Linked DNA regions of Homo sapiens. The protein of the gene in region 1 purifies or fractionates together with the protein of each later gene. This does not show direct contact. Each region holds a gene or a part of one and is shown on either strand. Other genes may lie near its edges.

Evidence for each region.
Region 2: the proteins of SLK (region 1) and SPECC1 purify together in Homo sapiens (affinity purification with mass spectrometry, with the first as the bait; one large-scale study listed by BioGRID). This does not show direct contact.
Region 3: the proteins of SLK (region 1) and PTPN23 purify together in Homo sapiens (affinity purification with mass spectrometry; one large-scale study listed by BioGRID and IntAct). This does not show direct contact.
Region 4: the proteins of SLK (region 1) and RBM28 purify together in Homo sapiens (affinity purification with mass spectrometry; one large-scale study listed by BioGRID and IntAct). This does not show direct contact.

The regions. Positions count from the first base shown.
Region 1 is NC_000010.11:103,972,617-103,977,584, forward strand, and holds part of SLK (STE20-like serine/threonine-protein kinase), read left to right. Parts: intron 1-4,968. UniProt on the Homo sapiens protein: Mediates apoptosis and actin stress fiber dissolution.
Region 2 is NC_000017.11:20,315,793-20,320,344, reverse strand, and holds the end of SPECC1 (cytospin-B), read right to left. Parts: 3' UTR 1,319-4,552; downstream 1-1,318.
Region 3 is NC_000003.12:47,383,371-47,388,338, reverse strand, and holds part of PTPN23 (tyrosine-protein phosphatase non-receptor type 23), read right to left. Parts: intron 1-4,968. UniProt on the Homo sapiens protein: Plays a role in sorting of endocytic ubiquitinated cargos into multivesicular bodies (MVBs) via its interaction with the ESCRT-I complex (endosomal sorting complex required for transport I), and possibly also other ESCRT complexes.
Region 4 is NC_000007.14:128,312,091-128,317,058, forward strand, and holds part of RBM28 (RNA-binding protein 28), read right to left. Parts: intron 2,931-4,968; coding exon 2,674-2,930; intron 1,185-2,673; coding exon 1,085-1,184; intron 1-1,084. UniProt on the Homo sapiens protein: Nucleolar component of the spliceosomal ribonucleoprotein complexes.

The DNA of each region.
Region 1 (4,968 bases):
AGCCGGGATCGCACCACTGCACTCCAGCCTGGGCGAAAGAGCAAGACTCCGTCTCAAAAAAAAAAAAAAATTTCCTTGCTCTGCATCTTTGCTAACATTTAATATTGTCAGAATTTTAAAGTTTTGACAGGCTGATAATGTGTTACATTTCTCATTGTGCATTTAATTCACCTTTCACAGATTACTAAAAGTAATTCTTTTAATATGTTTTTGGTAATTTGAATTTCTTCTTTTGTGTTCAAGTCTCTTATCCATTTTTCTCTTGAAGTCTTTGTTTGTATGTTGATTGTGTGTGTGTACAATATATGTGTTTTGAATTTTAACCATTTGCTGGTGATAGTTATTGCTAATATAGTCTCATTCTGAGACCTGTCTTTTCATTCTCACTGTAGTGTCTTTTTATGAATTCTTTAACATGGTCCAATTTGTTAGTTTTTTCCTTTACAGTTGATGCTTTTTGTGTTATGTTTAAGACATTTCTTCCTAATGTGTGATCATGAAGATAATCTTCTATATTATCTTCTAAAAGCTTTATGATTTTGCTTTTCTTTAACAATTAGATCTATAATCTACCTAGAATAGATGTTTGTAAATGGTATGAGGTAGGGGTCCAGTTTCATTTTTTTCCCCATATGGATACACAATTGTCCCAGAACTATTTGCTGGGAAGAAAAATAATTCCCCACTGCTCTGCAGTGCCCTGTTATGTAGCATGTGTCTGTTTCTGCATTCTCCGTTCTCTTCATTGATCTATTTGTCTATTCCTATACCAGTATCCCACTGTCTTAATTAGGAAAGAATTAAAATAAATTTCTGCTGCTTCTTCAACATAGTTTAGTAGTATTGTTGGCCCTTAGGGCTTCTATGTACATTTTCCAGTTAGCCTGGTTGAGTGCCACAAAAAATCTGTGTTTTTTTGGAGAGATTTCATTGAATTTATAAATCAGTTTTGGAAAAATTAACCTCTCTTTGATATTGAGTCTTCCCACCTGTGCATGTTTTATCTCTGTTTAGGTCTTTTTTACTATCTTAATAATGAGTTACAGTTTTTTTCCCTAGAAGTGGGAACACAAACTACTTCAAGGATGTTTTAAATACTTTGTTTTTCCTGTTAGAATTTCCTCCTTGTTTTTGTTGTGTACAACCTTTAGTAGCCTTCTGAGAAAGGATCCATGGAAAACATATTTTTTAAGAACTTGCCTGTCTAAATATGTCTTTATTATAAGGTCACAACTTAATATATATAATTCTAGTTCAAAAGTAAGTTTTTAAAGAATTTTTAAGATTTAGAATTTGTTAGTTTTGAAGACTTTCTTCCATTCATTATCTTTTGGCTGCAAGAGTTGCTGTTGAATGTCTGATGCCATTTGGCTTCCTGGATCCTTTGCCATCTTTTTCTCTTAATAGCCTTTAGGATTTTCTTTTATCCTCTGTTCGTGGTGATGTACTTTGATATAGGTCTTTTCTTCTTCTTTCGTTTTGCTGTGCTCTTGGTTGGTCCTTTCAATCCAAAGACTTATGTCCTTCAGTTCTGTGACATTTTCTTGTATTATTTATTTGACAGCCTCCACCCACCACTTCCCCCAATAATGACTCTTGCCATGGTCTTAAGATTCTTCATGTCCCTAAATTCAGGGGACACTTACCATCTTACTTGACCTGTCATTACCATTTGAGATACTTGGCCATTCTTTCCTTTAAAAAGTTCATCTTGGCCGGGCGCGGTGGCTCACGCTTGTAATCCCAGCACTTTGGGAGGCCGAGGCGGGTGGATCACGAGGTCAGGAGATCGAGACCATCCTGGCTAACACGGTGAAACCCCGTCTCTACTAAAAATACAAAAAAAAAATTAGCCGGGCGTGATGGCGGGCGCCTGTAGTCCCAGCTACTCGGGAGGCTGAGGCAGGAGAATGGCGTGAACCCGGGAGGCGGAGCTTGCAGTGAGCCGAGATTGCGCCACTGCACTCCCGCCTGGGCCACAGAGCGAGACTCCGTCTCAAAAAAAAAAAAAAAAAAAAAAAAAAGTTCATCTTTTGGCCTTTTTTTTTTTTTGAGATGGAGTCTCGCTCTGTCGCCCAGGCTGGAGTGCAGTGGCGCGATCTCGGCTCACTGCAAGCTCTGCCTCCCGGGTTCACGCCATTCTCCTGCCTCAGCCTCCCGAGTAGGTGGGACTACAGGTGCCTGCTACCACGCCCGGCTAATTTTTTCTATTTTTTTTTTTTTTTTTTTTTTTTAGTAGAGACAGGGTTTCACCATGTTGGCCAGGATGGTCGCGATCTCTTGACCTCATGATCCACCCGCCTCGGCCTCCCAAAGTGCTGGGATTACAGGTGTGAGCCATCTCACCTGGCCCGTCTTTTGGCTTTTAAGTCACCATACTCTTGATTTTCCTTCCACCTCTGTGTCTGTTCGTCACACTCCTTTGCTGGTTCTTCCTCTTTCTGACTTTAAGGTGTGGGAATTCCACAGGGCTTGGGTATAGGCCACCTTCTCCTTTTCTTAAGAGAACCGGTCTTCTCCCATGGCTTCAATTACCATCTAAGTGCAATTTCTATCTTTACCCTAAGACCTCCCTTTTGAACTCCAGATCCACACATCCAACTGTCTATTAGAGATTTCTGCTTGGATGTCTCACAGATACCTTAAACTGCAAGTCCAAAACATGAACTAATTCAGCTCATGATGTCAGTCACAAATTTGCTCCTTCTGTCTTCCCACTCAGTAATTACCACTTCCATCTACCAGTTGCATAGGCCAGAGACCTAGAGGTCATTTTTAACACCTGTTGCTGCCTTCCCCGCCAAACCTAATTAAACACCAAGGCCTGTTAATTCTACCTACTAAATATTTCTCAAAAATACTTCTTTCTTTCTTCACTGTCATTTCACTAGTCAAAGCTGCTATCATCTCTTAGACTACTGCAGTCTTATTGGTATGTTTTTGGGCTTCATATAATCATTTACATGATTCTTTTAATCCTGTAATCATTTAATATATTCCTTTGTGTTGGGCTTCTTTTGCCAAACATTATATGAATGAGTTTCATCCATGTTGTTGCATGTAGTAGTAATTTGATCTTTTTCTTTGCTTTATGGTATTTTATGAAATATTATAGTTTATCCATTCTGTAGTATTTGGATTGTTTTCACTTTTTGTATGTTAAAAATATGATTCACGGCCCGGTGCAGGGGCTCACGCCTGTAATCCCAGCACTTTGGGATGCCAAGGTGGGAGGGTCACTTGAGCCCAGGAGTTCAAGACCAGCCTGGGCAACATAGGGAGACCCCATCTTTATTTGTTTTATTATTATTATTTTTTCTTGAGACAGAGTCTCACCTCTGTCATCCAGGCCGGAGTGCAGTGGCGCGATCAACTCCCCAGGCTCAGGTGATCCTCCCACCCCAGCCTCCCAAGTAGCTGGGACTGTAGGCACCTGCTACCATGCCCAGCTAATTTTTATATTTTTTGTAGAGACGGGATTTTGCCATGTTGCCCAGGCTGGTCTCAAATTCTTAGGCTCAAGTGATCTGCCCACCTCGGCCTCCCAAATTGCTAAGATTACAGGTGTGAGCCACCATGTCCAGCCTTAAATTTTTTAAATTAAAAACCAAAAAATACGATTCATGAATATTCTTGTGCCTTTTGGTGCACATGTGCCATTATTTCTGTTGGATATATACCGGGAAGGAATTTTCTAGGTCATAGGTTATACATATCTTCCAAAGCGGTTGTACCAATTTACACTCCCATCAGTAGGGTATGGGAGTTTTCCCAGTTGCTCTGTGTCTTCACTTACACTTGGTATTGTTATTAATATTATCTTTAATGTTTTTTGTTAGCCATTCTGTTGAGTATAAGTGGTTTTATTTACATTTTCCTGATGACTAATGAAGTTGAGTGCCTTTTTATGTGCTTATTCAATATTTGGGTATCTTTTTTTGGTGGAATTCCTGGTTATTTGCCCAATTAAAAAAAAAAAGCTCTATTTTGAGGTATAATTTATATACCACAAAATTCACCCATATAATTTTGTGAGTTTTAGTAAATCTGTATAGTTTTGCAGCCATTACTACAATCCAGCTTTGGAAGCTTTCTGTCACCCCCCGAAAGTTCTCATGTGCCTATTTTGCAGTCTGTCTCTATTCCCACACCAAGCTCAAGATAGCCCTTACTTGCTTTCGGAATGGCTCTGTAATTTTGCCTTTTCTAGAATTTTTTAATAAGTGGAAACATACAATATGTATTCTTAATATGTATGGCTTTTTGCACTTAGCACAGGGTTTCTCAGTGTTGGCACTACAGCCGTTTTGGACAGGATAATCCTTTTTTGTGGAGGGCTGTCCTATGCACTGTAGGATGCATCCCTGACCCTACCCCTTTGTGACAACCTAAAATACTTCCAGACATTGCCAAATGTCTCCTGGATGGCAAAATCAGCACCACTGGTTGAGTGTAATTTTTCAGGATTCATCTGTGTTATTCATTTGTCTATTAAAATTTTTGGTTATTTATATTTTCCTTAATGATTTGTAGGATATGAGGTCCTTTTTCCACAATGTAGATTGCTTTTCATTTATTTAATTCTTTTTCCTGATCCATAGAGGTATTTTTAAATTAGAAAATAAATTTATTAGAAAACAAAGGTTGAAAATAAACAGAATGAACAAACTCTATTTTTGCTTGCCCCAAAACCTCAATAAAAACTGTTATCTGGCCAGGTGCAGTGACTCATGCCTGTAATCCCAGCACTTTATAAGTTTGAGGCAGTAGGATTGCTTGAGCCCAGGAATTCAAGAACAGCCTGGGCAACATAGCGAGACCCCATGTCTACGGAAAGTAGTAAAAAAACTTAGCTGGGCATGATGGCACTCACCTGTGGTCACAGCTGCTGGAGAGGCTGAAGTGGGAGGATCCCTTGAACTTGGTGGAGGCTGCAGTGAGCTGTGATTGTGCCACTGCACTCCAGCC
Region 2 (4,552 bases), on another chromosome or scaffold:
TTGAGGTCAGGAGTTTGAGGCCAGCCTGGCCAACATGGTGAAACCCTGTCTCTACTAAAAATACAAAAATTAGTTGGGCGTGGTGGTGCGCGCCTGTAGTCCCAGCTACTCCAGAGGCTGAGACAGGAGAATCGCTTGAACCCGGGAGGTGGATGTTGCAGTGAGCTGATATCGTGCCACCAAACTCCAGCCTGGGCGACAGAGCAAGACTCCGTCTCAAAAAAAGAAAGAAGGCAGGAGAGAACGAAGGAAAGAGAAGAAAAGAAGGAAGAAAGGAAGGAAGGAAGGAAGGAAGGGTGACAAAGAAGAATCTAGAGAGCACTCAAATACTAATTCTTGAGGACAATTAAGACAGATCGCATTATGAAAAACAGATTTTGTCACTGAAGCCTCAGGGCTTCAGCCTAGATCCTGCGCTGCTCACCCACAGAAAGCCAACCACTGAGATGAGTATTGCAAAGGAAGAAGGCTTTAATCAGATGCTGCAGCCGAGGAGATGGGAGCTCAGTCTCAAATCCCTCTCTCTGACCAACTAAAATTAGGGATTTTTAGTATAGCAAAGAAGAAATGTAACTATGTTTAAGAAAACATGAACTAGGAAGGGGTAAGGAAGCAATCATTTACAAAATATCTGTGGCCGGGCGCAGTGGCTCCCACCTGTAATCCCAGCACTTTGGGAGGCAGAGGCGGGTAGATCATGAGGTCAAGAGATCAAGACCATCCTGGCTAACATGGTGACCCCTTGTTCTCTACTAAAAATACAAAAATTAGTTGGGCGTGGTGGCACGTGCCTGTAGTCCCAGCTACTCGGGAGGCTGAGACAAAAGAATCGCTTGAACCCGGGAGGCGGAGGTTGCAGTGAGTCAAGATCGTGCCACTGTACTCCAGCCTGGCGACAGGGCTAGACTCCATCTCAAAAAAAAAAAAAAACCAGAAAAAGAAAAAAAGTATCTTCACCCTGCCTCCTCAATCTTGGCATAATTCCCCCTGCGAGTGGTTTCTGGGGTCTCAGTTGGCATTTAGTCACACATTGCACATATCGTGTGCACATCTGCACAGCTCAGCAGTGTCCTGGGTAGGCCTTGAAGGGTGATCTTCACGTAAGCCTGTGGCCTGAGCAAGAAAGCTGCACACGGGCAGCGGAGGAACCAGCAGGAGCCCAGTCCTCTGTGGAAAATTCCAGCACCACCCGCAAGAGCAGCTGCAGTGGAGACTGTGACCCGACAAGGATATATGCATGAAGATGCTGGTCTGAAAACAGACTCAGTTTAAGGGTGGCACTTTGAAAAAATATTGATAAATGTCAGTGAGAAAAAAATAATTAGAAACAAAATATATTTATTAGAAATATTACAGTCATTTATCATACACTTTCCTATGAATAGTTAAATACATCTAATTAGCATGTCATATCCAAAAGTGCTGGGTACAATCTAGTGTGCTCTTTATAGACACGAGGCCACAGATGTATCAACTACACTCAACTAATGTAGTTAAAGTTAGTGTGCTAAAAAAAAAAATTAGTGTGCTATTCAGGATGCTACAGATTTAGCAAAATTCTAACCTGGATCAGAGGAGTGAAATGCCCCGTGAATTGAGGCAACTGTAGATATTCGAAATGCTTCTAAAAAGGCTGTGAGGTTATGTCCTTTACTGCATGTCATTGGTAGGTCATCTCAAAATGGCACTCGAGCTTTGGAAGGGTGAGAACTATTGCTAGATTTGGTAGGGGGTCTGCATCTATGGGCCCGAGTCCTCCATCTCCACAAGCTGCCCCTCAGTGGGGAAGAGGAGGGGGAGGCTAAGGGAGTCTCCGTAACGTTTGTGGGCAGCAGGGAAGAGAACATGGCAGAGATTCCTCACCGCTGGATGGCTTGTCCCCTGGGGATGTGTGTTTTTATCTAACACCCACCTGCATCTACTTGGGTTGGTCTCTACAAAAGCTGTAAAACAAAAACTGAATGAAAAAGGAAAATAAAAGACTAATATTTTTGAAATGAGAAGGGGCTAGGACAAGAGAAGCTCCTGAGAATGTTATCCCCGCAGGGCGGGGGCCATGGGTTACCATCAGACAAGGAAAATTCAATCCATGTTCAATGCAGAGAACAGCGACTTCTCACCTTGAAAAACTCTCCAACTCTACTGGGGCTTGCATTTTGCAGCTGTCTTTCATGTAAAAATGATACATTAAAAAAAGGATCTTCAGAACAACTGAAGAATTTTAAATGACTACTGGCTGAGGGAAGATGGAAAGAAATGTGGCTGTTGTGGTCTTTGAAATCCTCAGGACAGAAACTGGGAATGGCACACTCTGCTGAGTATAGAAAAAATAAGATGCTGACCTTGTTTTCCTGCCAACTTTCCACCTTCACCTGGTGCTCTGAGCTCTGTTAAAAACAGACCTAAAAACCCTACCCCTTGGCCTAGCTGGGTTGGGGACTGCCTCCCCCAGGTCCTGCACCTCCACACGCCAGCGGATGGCTTGGGGGAGCCCTACTAGCTGCTGTGCTAGAAGGCCTATTCCTGGACTCCTGAGGCCATCAGTCACAGTTCCAGGACCCCAGCAGAACCTTCCCTTCCCCAAAACACCACCTGTATTTCTTTTTTTTGTGTGTGTGTGTGACAGGGTCTTGCTCTTTGGCCCAGGCCAGAGTGCAGTGGCACAAACACAGCTTACTGCAGCCTCAAACTCCTGGGCTCAAGTGATGCTCCCACCTCAGCCTCCCAAGCAGCTGAGATTACAGGTGCCTATCATTGTACCCAGCTAATTAAAAAACAAAATTTTGGGCCAGGCGCGGTGGCTTACCCCTGTAGTCCCAGCACTTTGGGAGGTTGAGGCAGGCTTATCACTTGAGGTCAGGAGTTCAAGACCAGCCTGGCCAACATGGTGAAACTGTTTCTACTAAAAATACAAAAATATGCCAGGCATGGTGGCATGTGCCTATAATCCCAGCTACTTAGGAGGCTAAGGCAGGAGAATCTCTTGAACCTGGGAGGCGGAAGTTGTAATAAGCCAAGATCACACTACTCTAGCCTGGGTGACAGAGAAGTGAGACGCTCTCTCAAAAAAAAAAAAAAAAAAAAATTTTTTTATAGAGTCAGAGGTCTTGCCATGTTGCCCAGGCTGGTCTCAAACTCCTGGGCTCAAGCAATCCTCCCACCTCAGCCTCCCAAAGTGCTGGGATTATAGGCATGAGCCACCATGCCTGACCACCATGTGTATTTCTATGGACAGGACATGGCATTCCTCTTCTACATGCACACCACTGGCAAATAAAAAAAAAAAAAATGGTAGTCGGGGAAACTCCTGGAGTTGTAAAAATAAATTGTACATGGCCTTTCATGTTTCTTTCCTTCTTTTTAACCTAAAGAGAGCAGGATACAGACAAAAATGGGGGAGTTTGGCCACAGTCATTGGCAACTTGGGCTCCCAGTGGAGAGGGGCTGGTATGGCCCCAGCGGGGAGGGAGGGACACCGCAACGCCATTGCTCAGAGCTGGTTCTAGATGATTTACACGTAATCACTCAAAATAGAGCCAATCACAGGCCAGGTGTGGTGGCTCACTCCTGAGTGAGCTGAAATCGCGCCACTGGCACTCCAGCCTGGGCGACAGAGCAAGACTCTGTCTCAAAAAAAAAAACAAACAAACAACAACAAAAAAAACACAAAAAAACAGCCGGGCTCAGTGGCTCATGCCTGTAATCCCAGCACTTTGGGAGGCTGAGGCAGGCAGATCACCTTGCCATCAGGAGTTCGAGACCAGCCGGGCCAACATGGTGAAACCCCCTCTTTACTAAAAATACAAAAACATTAGCTGGGTGTGGTGATGGGCACCTGTAATCCCAGCCACATGGGAGGCTGAGGCAGGAGAATCGCTTAAACACGGGCGGCGGAGGTTGCAGTGAGCTGAGACGGTGCTATTGCCCTCCAGCCTGGGCAATAAGGATGAAACTCCATCTCAAAATAAATAAGTAAAAATAAAAAACAGAACCAATCACAGAAAACACCCACTCCCACTCCGGGTATCCCAAGACAGCAACTGCCTCCCCACATAAAACCCTGGACTAATTCCAGCTTAAATCTAACAACCAACAGCTCAACTCAACTACTTGGGATATTACTTTCCCCCACTTTAATGGTGGGCAAAGAAGAAGTACAGGGTTAATAAAAAAAAAATGCTTCAAACAAGTGCCTGAATCAGCAGAAGTAGTAACTTTCAGGTTGAATTGGTTCTATGTGTCGAGTTTCATTTAAATACAAAGGCATGGGTGATGTAATGACCATCGCCCAACAGCTGCTCAGGAGCTCCCGCAGGCTGCCTGCCTTGTGGCTGCCAGGGGAAGGTGTCCACCCCTCAGTGGTTCTCCAAGCAGCTGTGCTTCAGTCGCCTAAAGAACTTACAAAACATGTGAACTGCATCTCTGGTCCCATTCCAGACATTCTGAAGTTAACCAACTAGGGCAGCCAAGAGTGTTTTCAAAAGGGTCCACTGTAGGTTCTGATGCAGAGCTGCAGCTGGGATGCACTAACAGGGGGGCGGAGTTCTTGTCT
Region 3 (4,968 bases), on another chromosome or scaffold:
TATTCAGGAGGATGAGGTGGACGGACCACTTGAGACCTGGAGGCAGAGGCTGCAGTGTGCCAAGATCGTGCCTTTGCACTCCAGCCTGGGTGTTACAGCAAGACCCCATCTCTAAAAAAATAAAAATAAAAAAGAACTTAGAAGCATTAATTTTGATTCTCAGAAGCTTATGAGGTATATTATTAGTTCCATGTTTCAGGTAAGAAAAGTGAGGACTACATTAGTTATGTAATCTTTGTGACAGCTCAAGATCATTCAGCTATTAAAGGAATGAGAGGGGACCTAAACCAAGGTCTGATTCCAATAGCTATGCTATTTCCATGATGCTACTCTGCTATTTTACTGAGCACCAAACAGTAGAGAATTTTGTAGCTAGGTGAGATCACTGGAAACAACCATCCTGGTCCTGCCATGATTTTGCAGATTAGAGAAAGGGCAAACCACAGATAAGCAATGATAGTGCTAGGACCCCAAGACAGATTTCCTGACTCCAGACCTAATATTAATCCCTCTGTGTCACCTTCTCTTGTACTAGTATGTTCTCATTCTTCTATGTATGCTTTGCTCTTAATTTAACATTTGGAATTTCATCATGCTAATTAAAGCAATAAGACAAGAAGAAAAGGCAATTAAAAGGCATCACATGTGTTAGTTTTACCTTTATTCACCAGTTACATTATGTTTCTTTTTTCTCCAGTTCCAGAGTTGACTCAAATGTAGGGCATTCCTTGGGCTACTCTAAGAAACAAACTTTTTTTTTTTTTTTTTGAGACAGGGTCTCTGACACCCAGGCTGGAGTGGCGAGATCTTGGTTCACCACAGCCTCGACCTCCTGGGCTTAAGCCATACCCCCCACCTCAGCCTCCTGAGTAGCAGGGACTACAGGTGTGTGCCACCACACCACGCCTGACCTTTCTTTTTTTTTTTTTTTTTTTGTAGAGACAGGGTCTTGCTTTGTTGCCCAGGTTAGTCTCAAACTCCTGGTCTTGACTGATCCTCCTGCCTTGGCCTCCCAAAGTGCTGGGATGACAGGCATGAGCCAACGTGCCTGACCAGTATTGTTAATTAATACAGTATATGTTCAGCTACTAAATTTCAAATGAGACTAATTATATTCAGAGAATGGCGTATTGCCAAGTGAAATCTTCAGCTCCTTGGTCCATGTCAGCAAGCCTGAAAGAAAACCGCCATAGGCCAAGAGTACTGGGGATAAAAACATACCTTCATCCTCCCCTTGTCTAATCCCTACAATAATACTCAAGGCCTCGTTCCCACATCTTTTCTGAATGGCCCCTTGCCTGTCTGAACAACACAGTGAGGAAGACTCAGGTTACCTCTCCCAGAAGGTCCTAGAACTAGACTAGGTCATTCAACCAATGCTTGTTAAGCACTCCCTATATACAAATATTTTATTACGTCCTGAGTAAAGGAAAGAATCTGGTCTAAACTCTAACTGAAATGGATATAGGCCTCTGGTGTATGAGATTCAAGTCAGAGAATAATGGACAATCCAGGTCATCTGTGCCTGGAGCTGTTCCGCTGCAAATACAAGTGAACAGACAGGCTCAGGCAACTGGGTGACTCCAAATCTGTGACAAGAGATAAGACAGGTCACCACCACAGGTAACAGGCAATGTCCCATGCCCCTCACTGCTGAGCAGCCAGAGGCCTTTTAGGCCTCTAGTCCTCTTATTTACCTTTCTATGTATGTGTCTGTGTATGTACATACATGTGCAAGCTAGTTTTTCAAGAGCCAGCCATCCCATGGAAAATCTGGAAGGGGAAAAAATTCCATAAGCCTGAAAAACCAGGCTTCTACCCGGATGTGAATAAAATGAACAGTAAAAAAAAGGCAACAAGAGTGTGCACTGTGGGCTGGGCACGGTAGCTCATGCCTGTAATCCCAACACTTTGGGAGACCGAGGTGGGCAGATCACTTGAGGTCAGGAGTTCGAGACCAGCCTAGCCAACACGGCGAAACCCCATCTCTATTAAAAATACAAAAATTGGTTGGGCGTGGTGGTACACCCCTGTAATCCCAGCTACTCGGGAGGCTGAGGCACAAGAACTGCTTGAACCCAGGAGGCAGAGGTTGCAGTGAGCCAAGATTGCACCATTTATACCCCAGCCTGGGTGACAGAGCGAGACTCTGTCTCCAAAAAAAAAGAAAAAAAAACCAGCGTGCACTCTGTGGTGCAGGCTAACCCAGTGGTGGACAGCAAGACAGTCTGAATTCAGAGGAGGGAAAAGTTCTTTCTTGTTTCTGGCCCAAACACTTGCTGGGTGGCTGAGAGGACCCTAATGACGTACAGTTCAACCCATGTGATAAACAGGAGGAAGGGAATTCCAGTAAGGGCCTGAGCAAGGGCAGTGACCAGATGTGGAAGGAAGAGAAGCTGAAAGTTCTCATAGGAGAGGACTGGGGAGTGAAGTTAGAGAGACAGGCTGAAGCAAGCTGGGGACAGGCCATGAGCAGCCTGATGGGAAAGTAGAGATTTAGAGATCAACTCAGCCAGAGTGGGAGGATGGGAGATGAAGAGAAGCCAAGTGACAGGCAGGGTGGCTACCAGCCAGATGTACACCTGCACTTGAGGATGAGGGTTACTGTGTAGATTACTAGGAGGTAAGTTTCATGAAGACAGGGTTTTGTGGTGTTTTTTTGGAGACAGGGTCTCACTCTGTCGCCCTGACTAGAGTACAGTGGTGTGATCTTGGCTCACTGTAACATCCACCTCTGGGTTCAAGTGATCCTCCCACCTCAGCCTCCTAAGTAGCTGGGCCTACAAGGCACGCACCACCATGCCCAGCTAATTTTTGTATTTTTAGTAGAGATGGGGTTTCATCATATTGGCCAGGCTGGTCTCAAACTCCTGGACTCAAGCAATCCACCTGCCTCAGCCTCCCAAAGTGCTGGGATTACAGGTTAGAACCACTGCTCCCAGCCAAGACACAGGTTTTTGTCACCACTGTACCCAGGGCTGGCACATGACAGGCACTCAATAACTATTTGTTCAATGAATGAATCAGGGATGAACGTAACAGCTCAGTCCAAGTAAGCTGGACTTGAGCTCAAGTACAGCTGGTTAAGGGCAAGTGTTTGGGCCAGAAAGAATAAAGAACTTCAAACAGAAATACCTGAGGCCAAATCACTCACTGATAAAGAGGACAAGAGTCATCCATCATCAGTTTCCAGTGAATCAGCACTCTGGCCTCCAAAGCACAAGTTAAGAAGATGCAAGGCCAGCAGCATTTCCCCACTAAAAAATTACGTGGGTCTGGCTGGGTGTGGCGGCTCATACCTGTAATCCCAGCACTTTGGGAGGCCGAGGCAGGCAGATCACCTGAGGTCGGGGGTTCAAGACCAGCCTGACTAACATGGAGAAACCCCGTCTCTACTAAAAATACAAAATTAGCCAGGCGTGGTGGCACATGCCTGTAATCCTAGCTACTTGGGAGGCTGAGGCAGGAGAATCGCTTGAACCCGGGAGGCAGAGGTTGTGGTGAGCCAAGATGGTGCCATTGCACTCCAGCCTGGGCAACGAAAGCAAAACTCCATCTAAAAAAAAAAAAAAATTCACACGGGTCCAATATCCTAACCTAAAGTTTGCCACTGCAGTTCAAAACCATCCTGTTTTTCTGGCTTCTATTTCACATTATGCCATAATGGAAGGCTTGTCTACTGGGAGTGAAAATCAATACTAGCCACCATGAAAGATTTGTCAAAAGCCCAGCCCTCTCAAACAACGAACCCCTTTACCTGTCTGGAAAACTCCTATTCATCCTTTAAAATCCATCTCTGGCAAGCCTTCCCTGATGGCCCCTCCTCAGGCTGGTATTTCTATACACTGCAAATACTTCTACTCTTTTTTTTTTTTTTTTTTTTGAGACAGTCTCGCTCTATCACCCAGGCTGGAGTGCAGTGGCACGATCCTGGCTCACTGCAAGCTCCGCCTCCCAGGTTCACGCCATTCTCCTGCCTCAGCCTCCCGACTACAGGCACCCGCCACTATGCCTGGCTAATTTTTTGTATTTTTAGTAGAGATGGGGTTTCACCGTGTTAGCCAGGATGGTCTTGATCTCCTGACCTCGTGATCTGCCCGCCTCGGCCTCCCAAAGTGCTGGGATTACAGGCGTGAGCCACCGCACCCGGCCTACAAATACTTCTACTCTTAATGTCATCACTATAATTTTTAAATTTCCTTTATGAATTCCTTGAAAAAAAAAAAAGGCTGTCTCTTACTTGTCTGCTTATCAAGGTTCAGCATAGTACTTAACCAGTTGATGTAAACAGAACCAATTTTCACCCTTCTATTCTAAATTAAATTCTAACCCTCAGCTCCAATTCACTGGCAGAGGTTCCCACAGCTCAGAGCAAGCATAAAGCAGGACAAGGGTGCCAGTGGCAGAAGGCAGAGAAGGGGCTCTGCAGTTGGGGAAGGGGGTGCAGGTTGGGAAGAGTCCCCAGGCTGCAGTGGTGTCTGCACAGTCTCCTCCAGTGTCTATAGGAGTAATTGTTTCATATCTGATACCACCTCGGGCTAAAGGGCTAATGAGCAACTCCTCTCCTGGAGGCCCAGGTGCATGGAGGGAAGTCACTGGTCACACAATACCCTTTGGGTCGGTGTGAATCGTCAGAGCAGCAAAGGCTAAGTTCAAACAAAAATACTTCCTAGGAGTTTCTGGGCCAAGATTTTATCTACTGCATTCCCATATATTTATGGTCACCATCTCTAAATTTCCGCTCAGCTGTAATTCAATCATTTGAGAAATATTTTTCTGACTGCCAACTATGTAGAGGGTACACTGTTAGGCTCTGGGGAACACAGAGATGCTTCTCAGGTAACACACACTTGAACAGGGGGGTTAAAACACAGCATACATAACTGTCACCAGGGAAAGGATGAAAAGAGTTAAGGAATTAAGAGAAGAGAAAGATTAATCCAGGTAGAAAGATTAAGAAAGGCTCTG
Region 4 (4,968 bases), on another chromosome or scaffold:
ACACACACCACCTATGAAATACTCTCTTCAAGAAAACTGAACTTGAGGCCAAGCACGGTGGCTCACACCTGTAATCCCAGCACTTTGGGAGGCCGAGGCAGGCGAATCACCTGAGGTCAAGAGTTCAAGGCCAGCCTGGTCAACATGGTGAAACCCCGTCTCTACTAAAATACAAAATTAGCTGGGCATGGTGGCGCATGCCTGTAATTCCAGCTACTCGGGAGGCTACTCCTGGAGGCGGAGGTTGCAGTGAGCCGAGATTGCGCCATTGCACTCCAGCCTAGGCAACAAGAGCAAAACTCCACCTCAAAAAAATTTTTAAAAAAAGAAAACTGAACTTGATCAAGCTACCAGACCGAACTAACTACCAGATGACAGGCAATATGGGGGTGTCACAGAGACAAGTTAAATGACACCACAAAGAAGCAAATGGCTAAATTAAAAATGTAACACAAATGACCTGGTTTCTCCAATAAATGAATAGCATGGAAAAAAGGGTGGTAAGGGAGAATGGATATTAGAGAAGAAAAAAATGATTTAAGAAATTAAAAACCCAAGTATAATGTGGGACTTTGGATCCCGACTCATACTAACCAAGTATAAAAAAATTTTTTTCAGGCAATTTGGCAAATTTTAATATGGATTTAATATATCATTTGTGTAGTAGATGATAAAGGGCTTATTAGTTTCATTAGATATTATAATGGCATAAGGTGTGTGTGTTTAAGGCCTGATCAGTTAGAGATGCACTCTGAGGTTTTTCTGAGCAATATGTTTCATTTTCATATGAGACGCATTTACATGTGAAATGGGCTTTGCTTTAATATACTCTAGTGGGGAAAGCATGTTATGGGGAATATGTAAAACAAGGAGACTGCTGAAACACAGGAACAGATACGTGGAGGTTCATTTTACTTTTTTCTCTCCACTTTTAAGATTGTATAGCTCAACATTCTCTAAAAAGCTACCGTCCTACACAGAAGTCTTTCTTTTTTTCTTTTTTGCTCAACTAACCAAGGTACAAACATGGCTACGACCTGGCAGAACCATGCCATACCAAAGCTGTATGTCCTGCAGAACTCACCTGCTCGGACGATAATTGCTGCTTCTCCTGCTTCCACTGGTTTATCTGTGGCTTTGGCTTTTTGGGATGGACGGGCTTCACTTTGCCTTTGTCCCGCAACCTGAAATAACATGGCTGAGTGTCACCTTGAGTCCTTCTTCTAATTTGACACCCCTAGGTTCTCTTTGTACACTGGCCCTTCCCAAGCCCATGATAAGTGAAGTCATTCTAAAAAGGGATACTGCAACAGACCCTCTGAAAGCTCAACATTTGTATACTTAGGACTGCTTGATGCCAGGAGTTTGAGACCAGCCTATGCAACATAGCAATCCCCCGTCTCTACTACAACGAAATTAAAAAGTCCCAGCTACTCAGGAGGCTGAGGAAGGTGGATTGAGTCCAGGAGTTGAGGTTACAGTGCGCTATGATCATGCCACTGCACTCTAGCCTGGGCAACAGAGCAAGACCCTGTGACATGGTTTGGATCTGTGTCCTTGCTCAAATCTCACGTTGAATTGTAATCCCCAGTGTTGAAGGCTGGGCCTGGTGGGAGGTGACTGGATCATGGGGATGACTCCTTCATGAATGGTTTAGCGCCATCCCCTCAGTGCTGTTCTCGTGACGGTGAATGAGTTACCACAAGATCTGGTTGTTTAAAACACTCCCCCCTGCTCCTGGCCATGTGATGTGCCAGCTCCCACTTCACCTTCCACTATGATTAAGTTTCCTGAGGCCTCCCTAGAAGATGAGCAGCTGCTGTCATGCTTCCTGTACAGCCTGTGGAACCATGAGCCAATTAAGCCTCTTTTCTTTTCTTTTTTTTTTTTGAGACGGAGTCTCGCTCTTTCGCCCAGGCCAGAGTGCAGTGGCGTGATCTCGGCTCACTGCAAGCTCCGCCTCCCGGGTTCACGCCATTCTCCTGCCTCAGCCTCCCCAGTAGCTGGGACTACAGGCGCCCGCCACCGCACCCAGCTAATTTTTTGTATTTTTAGTAGAGACGGGGTTTCAGCATGTTAACCAGGATGGTCTCGATCTCCTGACCTCGTGATCCACCCGCCTCGGCCTCCCAAAGTGCTGGGATTACAGGCGTGAGCCACCGCGCCCAGCCAAGCCTCTTTTCTTTATAAATTACCCAGTCTCAGGTATTTCTTTATAGCAGTGGAAGAACTGAATAATACACTGTCTCTAAAAATAAAATAAATAAATAAATAAAACCCCATGGATATCTCAAAAACCTTCATTTATTTAACAAATATTTTGTAAAGATTTACTTTTGTAGAGCACTAATCTGCTGTCCCAAACAGAAACTACAACTGAACCTCAAGTATGTGGTCTCAGCTGGCAGAGATGGCCATCTGGACAAGAGGAAGCTCTTCAAAAGAGGAGAAAAGGGGCACAAAAGCCTGCCCTAGGAGGCCCCTCTGCCATTGATCTAAGAGTGACATCTCTGATGGTGTTGAAGACTCGCGTGTTAACCCCATGTGTGGGAATACATAGCACCAAACATCCTTTTCAACCAAACAAATGCCACAAAGAGAAAATAACTCAGCAAAAACAAACCCGCTTAGAACCCACCCACTGTTCTGTGCTTCTGCCCTCCTGCATCTCACCTGATTTTGGGGCCTCGGTGTGAGGGGAGCGCCAGGACCTTTCTTCTCTTCTTTCCATCAGGCAGCTCCACCTGCTCCACTTCAGCCTTGGTCTGGAACCCGGTCCATGAGGTAGAGCCCGCCTTTCTCTTCTGCTCTGGGGGCACCTTGCTTTGTTCCTCTGTGTGGTGTTGAGCTGCCTTCTGTTGCTGGTCTTTTGCAGGCTCTGGTTGCCCCTTCTGAGGCTCACCAGTTGCAGGCTTGGATCTCATTTTTTGCTGCATAAAACAAGAAAATGCCATCTGGTTTCTGGATGAGCTTTGTTTGCTGCAAATACTCAGCAGAAGATGAGCTTTATGTGAGCTAGATGAAAGAAGAGGAATTCTTCCCCCACACAATTGGAGACTAGAGGAAAGTGAATACATGTAGATCACAAGCCCTGCCACAGTAACAGATGGTTACTGGGTGGGGGGCACAAAATAACCATTCCCCTTCCCATAACACAGAAATAAGGGAGAGTGCATGCCCAAAATTCAAAAGTCAGTAGGTGGGACAATTATCAAAGGTGTAACCTATGTAGAAGGAGAATACAAGAAGAAAGCAAGCAACAGAAAAGATAATGAAGTAATAAGGGCTGAGAATTTTTCAAAACTAATGACAGTCACTAAACCACAGATCTAGGAACTCAGAGAAGACCAAATAAGATAAATACTAAACAATTTACAACCAGTCATATCATAGACAAACTGCAGAAAATCAAAGATAAAATCTTGAAAGAAGCCAGACAGGGGAAAAATTTTACCTATAGAGGAACAAGGATGAGATTACATCAAATCTCTCTCTCTTTTGTTTTTAATAGGCACCCTCCCAAACCAGAGTAGATTGAGAGAGATTTCCAAGACTTCTCTTCAGAAACCATGTAAGCAAGAAGGGAGTGAAGTGAGATATTTAATATTTAAATTTTTAAAAGAAAAAAAAATCACCAACCTACAATCCTGTATCCGATAAACTTATCCTTCAAAAGTGAAGGAAAAGACTTACTCAGACAAAAGAAAATGGAGAGAATTTGTTGCCAGTAGACCTGTCTGCAAGAAATGCGAAATAATCTCTTCAGAGAGAAGAAAAATGACATAGGTCAGAAACTGATCGTTTTCAAGAAAGGAAGAACATCAGGAATGGAATAAATGAAGTAAAGACGACAAGAAAAAGATGCTGTGGGAAGGAAGGCATCAAGGAAGTTATAGAAGTATTTGCACTGAAGTGGAAGAAACAGAAGATTCAAGTGAAATTAATGTAATGATAAGTGTGTGTTGTTCTTCCCTTTCACCTTAGAAATCTAGATAGGTACAACGATACAATGAACATTTATTATATGCCTAGTGTGTGCCAGTCTGTTTCCAGGATACAAAAAAATAGTGTCTACCCTTCAGGACTCACAGCCAGGTGGAGATAAGAGATGCATTCACAAATAAACCAAAGTAAAAAAAACTACACAGCTTAAGGAAGTTCATGAAAATCAAGTAAAGAGGGCCTTATATCTTTTGAGAGAGGTGGAGGCATGCAACTTGAAAGAGATCATTTGATCTGCATATGCAAAGTGAGTAGAGGCATTTTTACACAGAAAGAACAGTATGAATATAAATCCAGGCAACAAATAAAGTAATTTGGATGTTAAAAAACAAACTAGGCTGGGCTCAGTGACTCACGCCTGTAATCCCAGCACTTTGGGAGGCTGAGGCAGGTGGATCACTTGAAGTCAGGAGTTCGAGACCAGCCTGGCCAACATGGTGAAACCCTGTCTCTACTAAAAAAATACAAAAATTAGCCGGGTATGGTGGTGTGCACCTGTAGTCCCAGCTACTCAGGAGGCTGAGGCAAGAGAATCACTTGAACCCAGAAGGTGGAGGTTGCAGTGAACTGAGATTGTGCCACTGCACTCCAAACTGAGCGACACAGCAAGACTCCATCTCAAACAGAAAAACAAACAAAACTGGTAGCTTCAGAATCACCTCTGAAACAATGGCTAACAGTAATAAACAATTCTATTATCTGGGGAACAAAGTTGCCTTGAACAATAACCAGATCCCAGATTTTCCAACCTAGGGCCACTGCATTAACCACCAGAATGGCTCGTCTGTTGGTAATCCTCTTGGTATATACCACAAAGACTACAAATGTTTGCTGTATATGCAAGGGAACTTTGCTGTGCAATATCAATGAGAGCTCTAAGAATGACAGAGTCAAGAATAATCTGGCCCTGTATGTCCTGGGGGAAGATGGGTAAGAGAATGAGTACTGACTGCGTGCTGACCATGC